Linked DNA regions of Homo sapiens. The protein of the gene in region 1 purifies or fractionates together with the protein of each later gene. This does not show direct contact. Each region holds a gene or a part of one and is shown in the gene's direction. Other genes may lie near its edges.

Region 1 (4,327 bases):
CAGTGGTGCGATCTTGGCTCACTGCAACCTCCGCCTCCCGGATTCAAGCGATCCTCCTGCCTCAGCCTCTTGAGTATCTGGGAGTACAGGCCTGCACCACAACACCCAGCTAATATTTGTATTTTTAGTAGAGACATGGTTTTGCCATGTTGACCAGGATGGTCTCAATCTCTTGACCACATTATCTGCCCGTCTTGGTCTCCCAAAGTGCTGGGATTACAGGTGACAGTCACTGCCCGGCATTGTTTTTTTGTTTTGTTTTGTTTTGTTTTTTGAGATGGAGTGTCAGTCTGTTGCCCAGGATGGAGGGCAGTGGTGCGAACTTGGCTCACTGCAGCCTCCATCTCCCGGGTTCAAGTGATTCTCCTGCCTCAGCCTCCTGTGTAGCTGGGATTACAGGTGCCTTCTACCATGCCCGGCTAATTTTTATATTTTTAGGAGAGACAGTTTTTCACCACATTGGCCAGGCTGGTCTCGAACTCTTGACCGCAAATAATCTGCCCGCCTTGGCCTCCTGAAGTGTTGGGATTACAAGCGTGAACTGCCATGCCTGGCCCTGTTTTTCCTTTTTATTTTTATAGTTTTTATATTGTCCATAAAATCGAGATTTCCGTAGTGACTTATGGGATCTTAAAATCTTTCAAGGAAAACTACAATAAAACGCAACTATAGGGAAAAAATATTCAAAAATACCTTAACATCCTTTTGTCAGAACATAATCTTTGATCAAATAAATACTTATTTTCTCATTTCTCATTTTCTGTGAAGGTGATAACTCATTACTCCATAATGTTTTGTTGAAATGTGTGTTTCATTTTAGGGACGCTTGACTTTCCGGGATGTGGCTATAGAATTCTCATTGGCAGAGTGGAAATGCCTGAACCCTTCACAGAGGGCTTTGTACAGGGAAGTGATGTTGGAGAACTACAGGAACCTGGAGGCTGTGGGTGAGGAAAATGTCCCTGCAGACATGAGGAGTCTGCTCTTGTCTATCTTGGCTCATCCTGGCTTTGTATCCTCTTTTGTGATTTTGCCCCATACATGGGTTTTGTTTTTTGTTTTTTGTTTTTGAGATGGTGTTTCGCTCCTATTGCCGAGGCTGGAGTGCAATGGTATGATCTTGGCTCACCATAACCTCCGCCCCTCAGGATCAAGTGATTCTCCTGCCTCAGCCTCCTGAGTAGCTGTTATTATAGGCATGCGAGACCACACCCAGCTAATTTTGTATTTTTAGTAGAGATGGGGTTTCTCCATGTTGGTCAGGCTCGTCTCTAACTCCCGACCTCAGGTGATCCACCCACCTCGGCCTCCCAAAGTGCTGGGATTACAGGCGTGAGCCACCATGCCCAGCTCATTCTGGTTTTTGAGGAGCATCACAGAAGCGTCTCTCACTGGCACTGTGACAATGTTCATCCCATAAACTAATGATCATCTTCTCTAAGCAGCAGTCAGTGGTGTTGCAATTCCTCCCAGCGAGGACATCATTCGGGCTCACAGCCTCATATGTATGAGGCTCTTGACTGAACTCTTGTTCATGTCACATTTTTCACACCAATATGTGTCACTGTTCATTTTTAACAAGAAAACCTATGTTCAGTTTGTTGTAGGATCAACCCTGTAAGAGATATGGTTTTCATCAATCTTATTGAGGAAGCTTTTGAGGTTGAATGAGGTTTCCATTGTTTAGTTCTACTGTCATTTCCTTAAGACACAGTGGCTTTCAACTTGTTCATTTCTATGTTGTTGTTTTTTTGTTTGTTTGTTTTGAGTCAGAGTCTCACTCTGTTGCCCAGGCTTGAGTGCAGTGGCATGATCTTGGCTCACTGCAACCTCCTCCTTTTGGGTTCAAGCGACTCTCCTGCCTCAGCCTCTTGAGTGGCTGGGATTACAGGCATGTGTCACCACACCCGACTAATTTTTGGTAGTTCTATTACAGATGGCAGTTTTGCCATGTTGGCCAGGCTGATTTTGATAGCCTGGCCTGACGTGATTCAGTTGCCTTGGATTCCCAAAGTGCTGGGATTACAGGCATGAGCCACAGCCCCTGGCCCCTTCCGAGTTTGTTTTTAAGGCTGAATAATATTCCACTGTATGTGTGTACCACATTTTGTTCGTATATTTATCTGTCAATGGACATCTGGGTTGGTTTCTTCTCTTTACTATAATAAATAATGTCAGCTGGGTGAAGTCGCACATGCCAGTAATCCCAGCACTTTGGAAGTGCGTGGGTGAATCACCTGAGGTCAGGAATTCGAGACCAGCCTAGACAATGTGGCAAAACCATATGTCTATTAAAGGTACAGTTTCTTTCTTTTTTTTTTTTTCAGACGGAGTATTGCTCTGTCACCCATGCTGGAGTGCAGTGGTGCAATCTCAGCTTACTGCAACCTCTGCCTCCTGGGTTCAAGCAATCTGCTACCTCAGCCTCCTAAGTAGCTGGGGTCATAGATGTGCATCACCATGCCCGGCCAATGTTTTTTTTTTTTTTTTTTTTTTTTTTTTTTTAGTAGAGACAGTGTTTCACCATGCATGCTGGCCAGGCTAGTCTTGAACTCCTGACAACATGATCCACCCACCCGTCTTCCTAATGAGCTGGGATTACAGAAGTAAGCCACTGCACTCAGCCTGGCTCTGTTTTCACAAACACATCTCTACCTACTCAGCCAGGGGATCCTTGTTCACCCCCATGGTCTCCTACATTGCTCTACTGTACTCTTCATGGAGTTTAGTTGTTTTTTTGTGTGTGTGTTTGTATGCATTTCTGGAATCTACACAGAGGATTTTGTTGAGTACATGCCTGAAACTAGAAGTCAGAGGCATTCAATTTAAGAGATGTAAAACTGCTTTCACCTCAGGCCACCGTACTGCTGCATTGTTGGATCTCTTTCATTCTTGTCCCTTGCCCATATTGTAATTTGCATATTTAACCTTGGGTCAATATGTTACCATTTGCTAAATTAGTTCCACTTTCCTCTAAGCTCAAGATTTGGTCTATCTTGGTGGAATTATATTCCCACAGAGGTGCATGCACAAAGTTCACTCCTACATGCCCATTACTTCCTGCCGTCCACCCTTGCCCTTCCTTTCCTGGCCTTGACTCACATGATACATTGATCTGGATGCAAATACCAGCCTATTGACTTTGTAAAAGTGAACACCCCAATTTCCCCGTGAGCCCCTCCCCTCCAACACTACTCTCCCTGAGTAAGTGAAGACCTTGTTCATCCACTGGACAAAATTATAGGAGGCCGCTTAAATCAGTGTGTGCAGGACATCATGACTCAGCACATGATCCATGAGGGATGGCTTCAGAACCACTGTCAGCAGCGCAGCTCAGCGCTTGTGTCCCAGCTCAGTCCTTGTATCCCCCTTGATGTACTTCTTTCTGTTCTCCTCATATTTTCTGTGTCTGGTCATTTCCTGTCCTGCCTGCGCTGACTATTGTGCCTAAGAACATGTCGTGGGATCCTTCATGCCCAGGATCAAGTCTTGTCCCTCACTTACCGTACGTGCAAACTGGGGTCATGTACATGAACACTGTGGGCCTGCTGTCATTATTTGAGAAATAATGTTAATTTGCCTCCAGGGTTGGTTTTTTTTTTTGTTTTTTGTTTAGTTTTGTTTTGTTTGAGAAAGAGTTTTGCTCCTGTTTCCCAGGCTGAAGTGCAATGGCACAATCTGAGTTCACCGCAACCTCCACCTCCCGGATTCAAATGGTTCTCCTGCCTCAGCCTCCCGAGAAGCTGGGATTACAGGCAAGTGCCACCACGCCTGGCAAGTTTTGTATTTTTAGTAGAGATGGGGGTTTCACCATGTTGGCCAGGCTGGTCTCGAACTCCTGACCTCAAGTGATCTACCTGCCTCAGCCTCCGAAAGTACTGGGATTACAGGCATGAGCCACTGTGCCTGGCCTTTTTTTTTTTTTTTTTAAATGGAGTTTCCCTCTTGTTGCCCAGGCTGGACTGCAGTGGTGCAGTCTCGGCTCACTGCAACCTCCACTTCTTGGGTTCAAGTGATTGTCCTGCCTCAGGACATAATCCCCCAAGTAGCTGGGATTATGCCTGGTGCGAGCCTGGCTAATTTCTGTATTTTTAGCAGAGATGGAGTTTCTACTAGTGATTCATCCACCTGCTTTTTAAAACAAATGAGTACTATTAGATGGCTTCATATAAGTTTTATAGTACACACTCAACTTCCTTTGTTTAATAATATTTGTCAGCCCTCAGTAATGTTGATGATGAGATGCCCCCTTTCCTGTCTCACTCTTTTCACTGTCCTGTTAGAAATAGCTTAGACTGGCCAGCCGCAGTGGCTTTGGCCTCTAATT
Region 2 (2,901 bases), on another chromosome or scaffold:
TCAGTTTGCAATAACTTTAGCTCATGGTGATGGTTAGATAGTAGAAAGTTCTGTTAAAAATGTAAACACCTAAGCCGGGCGCAGTGGCTCACACCTGTAATCCCAGCACTTTGGGAGGCTGAGGCGGGTGGATCACCTGAGGTTTAGAGTTCGAGACCAGCCTGACCAACGTGGAGAAACCCCATCTCTACTGCAAATACAAAATTAGCCAGGCGTGGTAGGCATGCCTGTAATCCCAGCTACTCGGGAGGCTGAGGCAGGAGAATTGCTTGAACCCGGGAGGTGGAGGTTGCGGTGAGCCGAGGTCGCGCCATTGCACTCCAGCCTGGGCAACAAGAGCGAAACTCCGTCTCAAAAAAAAAAAAAAAAAATTTAAACACTTGGCCAGGCGTGGTGGCTCATGCCTGTAATCCCAGCACTTTGGGAGGCCAAGACAGGAGGGTTGCTTGAGTTTGGAAGTTGAAGTCCAGCCTGGGCAACATAGTGAGACATCATCTCTACAAAAAATAAAATTAGCCAGGCATGGTGGTGCATGCCTGTAGTCCCAGCTACTTGGGAGGCTGAGGCTGGAGGATCACTTGAATGTGGGAGGTGTAGGTTATAGTGAGCCATTATTGTGCCACTGTACTCTAGCCTGGGTGCCAGAGTGAGACCCCGTCTCCAAAAATGTAAAAACTTACGAAGTTAAATAGCTCCCAGACATATCTTTTCATCTTTAAATGTTTCAGTGTGCAATTTTTAAAAGTACATTTTAAGCCAGGCGCGGTGGCTCACGCCTATAATCCCAGCACTTTGGGAGGCTGAGGCTGGCGGATTACTTGAGGTCAGGAGTTTGAGAGCAGCCTGGCCAACATACAGTGAAACCCTGTCTTTACTAAAAAACACAAAAATTAGCTGGACATGGTGGTGCACACCTGTAGTCCCAGCTACTTGGGAAGCAGAGGCAGGAGAATCGCTCGAACCTGGGAGGCAGAGGTTGCAGTGAGCCAACATTGCGCCACTGCACTCCAGCCTGGGTGACAGAGTGAAACTCTGTCTCTAAAAAAAAAAATAAACAAAAGTACATTTTAGGTTATACACCATTGTTAATGCAAACAATTATCTATAGACTTTTTTTTATAAATTAAAAAAATTATTTTATTTATTTGTTTGAGTGACACTGTCACCCAGGCTGGAGTGCAGTGGTGCAATCTCGGCTCACTGCCACCTCCATCTCCCGATTTCAAGTGATTCTCGTGCCTCAGCTTCCGAGTAGCTGAGATTGCAGGCACGCACCACCACACCCAACTAATTTTTGTATTTTTAGTAGAGACGAGGTTTCACTATGTTGGCCAGGCTGGTCTCAAAAACTCCTGACTCCTGAGGCGGATGGATCACTTGAGGTCGGGAGTTCTAGACCAACCTGGCCAACATGGTGAAACCCTGCCTCTACTAAAAATACAAAAAATTACCCGGGCGTGGTGGCACGCACTTGTAGTCCCAGCTACTTGGGAGGCTAAGGCAGGAGAGAATCGCTTGCACCTGGGAGGCAGAGATTGCAGTGAGCCAAGATCGTGCCGCTGCACTCCAGCCTGGGTGACAGAGCCAGACTCTGTCTCAAAAAAAAAAAAAAAAAAAGATTTTTTTCTTAACAGTGGGAAGTGAAAATTGGCTAAGAAGTCTACAGCATACAGTAAAAGAGATTATATTCTCTACATAATGCATGCTCCCTTGCCCTTATACATTGGAGAAATCATGGATTTTGGAACTTCCTGGCCACTAATGATGGTTAAGCTACTGGCTTGTTTAATGTTTTGTCAGTTTCTCACCAAGTTAGTAGATGATTGAATGCCCTACTAAAATTTTATTTGTTTTCTAGAATCCAAAATGATTGAGAAGCATGGAGGATACAAATTCAGTGCTCCAGTTGTGCCAAGTTCTTTCAATTTTGGAGGCCCAGCACCAGGGATGAATTGAGTTATCTCTTTCTTTCCTGCTGTGTGCTTGTAGTGAAGAGCTTGTGTTCCTCCTAGTAGTGGTTCCAGAACTGGTTCATGTTATCTATTCTAAACTAATAATCAATAGATGGACAAAAGAAACAACAACCCCAGGAGATGGGACCTGATCATGCAACCTGGCACTGGAAAAGAAATCAGCGGGATTTTGGGGGTGGGGGGGGATGGGAGGTACCTTAGAGGGAGTATTTTCTTTATTTTTTGAAGAAAGTAAGATCCTGACTCTGAAGCTTCAAAGTGACACTGTGGAAATCTGAAACGAGGGGATGTCATGAAGGCAGCTTTTCTTTTTCTGAGGAAAAAATAGGCATGGGCTACAGGACTATTTAAAATGTCTCATTTACAGTATAAAACTCAAAGGTAGATGTAATTTTTACACCTATGAGTATTTGTCCAATTTCTGTCTCTTCCTCACCATTGGGTATCTATTCTTTATATGTAAATAAGATAAGGTCATCTGATAGCCTTATTCAGTCTTCATCATTTTCATCATTGTTCCTATGTAGATTATTGGACATTTATTGTAGCACTACATAACTGATTATAAAAATCTGTAAATGAATTAGCACTTTCATATTGAAACAAGCCTGCTAGCCTATGTATAAAATAGCAAAATGTTTGCTGTTTATAAAAAGATGTAATGGGGTGGGGGGCAGGGGTAATTTCAAGTTATTAATTTAAAAATGAACTAGCAATTTTGTACCTGGTGACTTTGTGGTGCACTCACCTCTGATAGTGACTTGAATTCGGTATGTAAAAAGGGGTTAGTGGTATTTCATTGCTGCTAAAAATGACAACTCCCTCTGTGTCCTGTTTTTCTTAAAGCTGTCAGTGTACAAGTGGGTATTTGAATACCAGACCTTACTGTAAAAAATAAAAAAGGTGGTATCTAGAGCATGTAAATTGG

Evidence for each region. Proteins that work in one complex are often made in the same cells at the same time.
Region 2: the proteins of ZNF611 (region 1) and IPO7 purify together in Homo sapiens (co-immunoprecipitation; one large-scale study listed by IntAct). This does not show direct contact.

Annotation. Positions count from the first base shown.
Region 1 is NC_000019.10:52,710,635-52,714,961, reverse strand, and holds part of ZNF611 (zinc finger protein 611), read left to right. Parts: intron 1-820; coding exon 821-947; intron 948-4,327. UniProt on the Homo sapiens protein: May be involved in transcriptional regulation.
Region 2 is NC_000011.10:9,443,239-9,446,139, forward strand, and holds part of IPO7 (importin-7), read left to right. Parts: intron 1-1,858; coding exon 1,859-1,956; 3' UTR 1,957-2,901. UniProt on the Homo sapiens protein: Functions in nuclear protein import, either by acting as autonomous nuclear transport receptor or as an adapter-like protein in association with the importin-beta subunit KPNB1.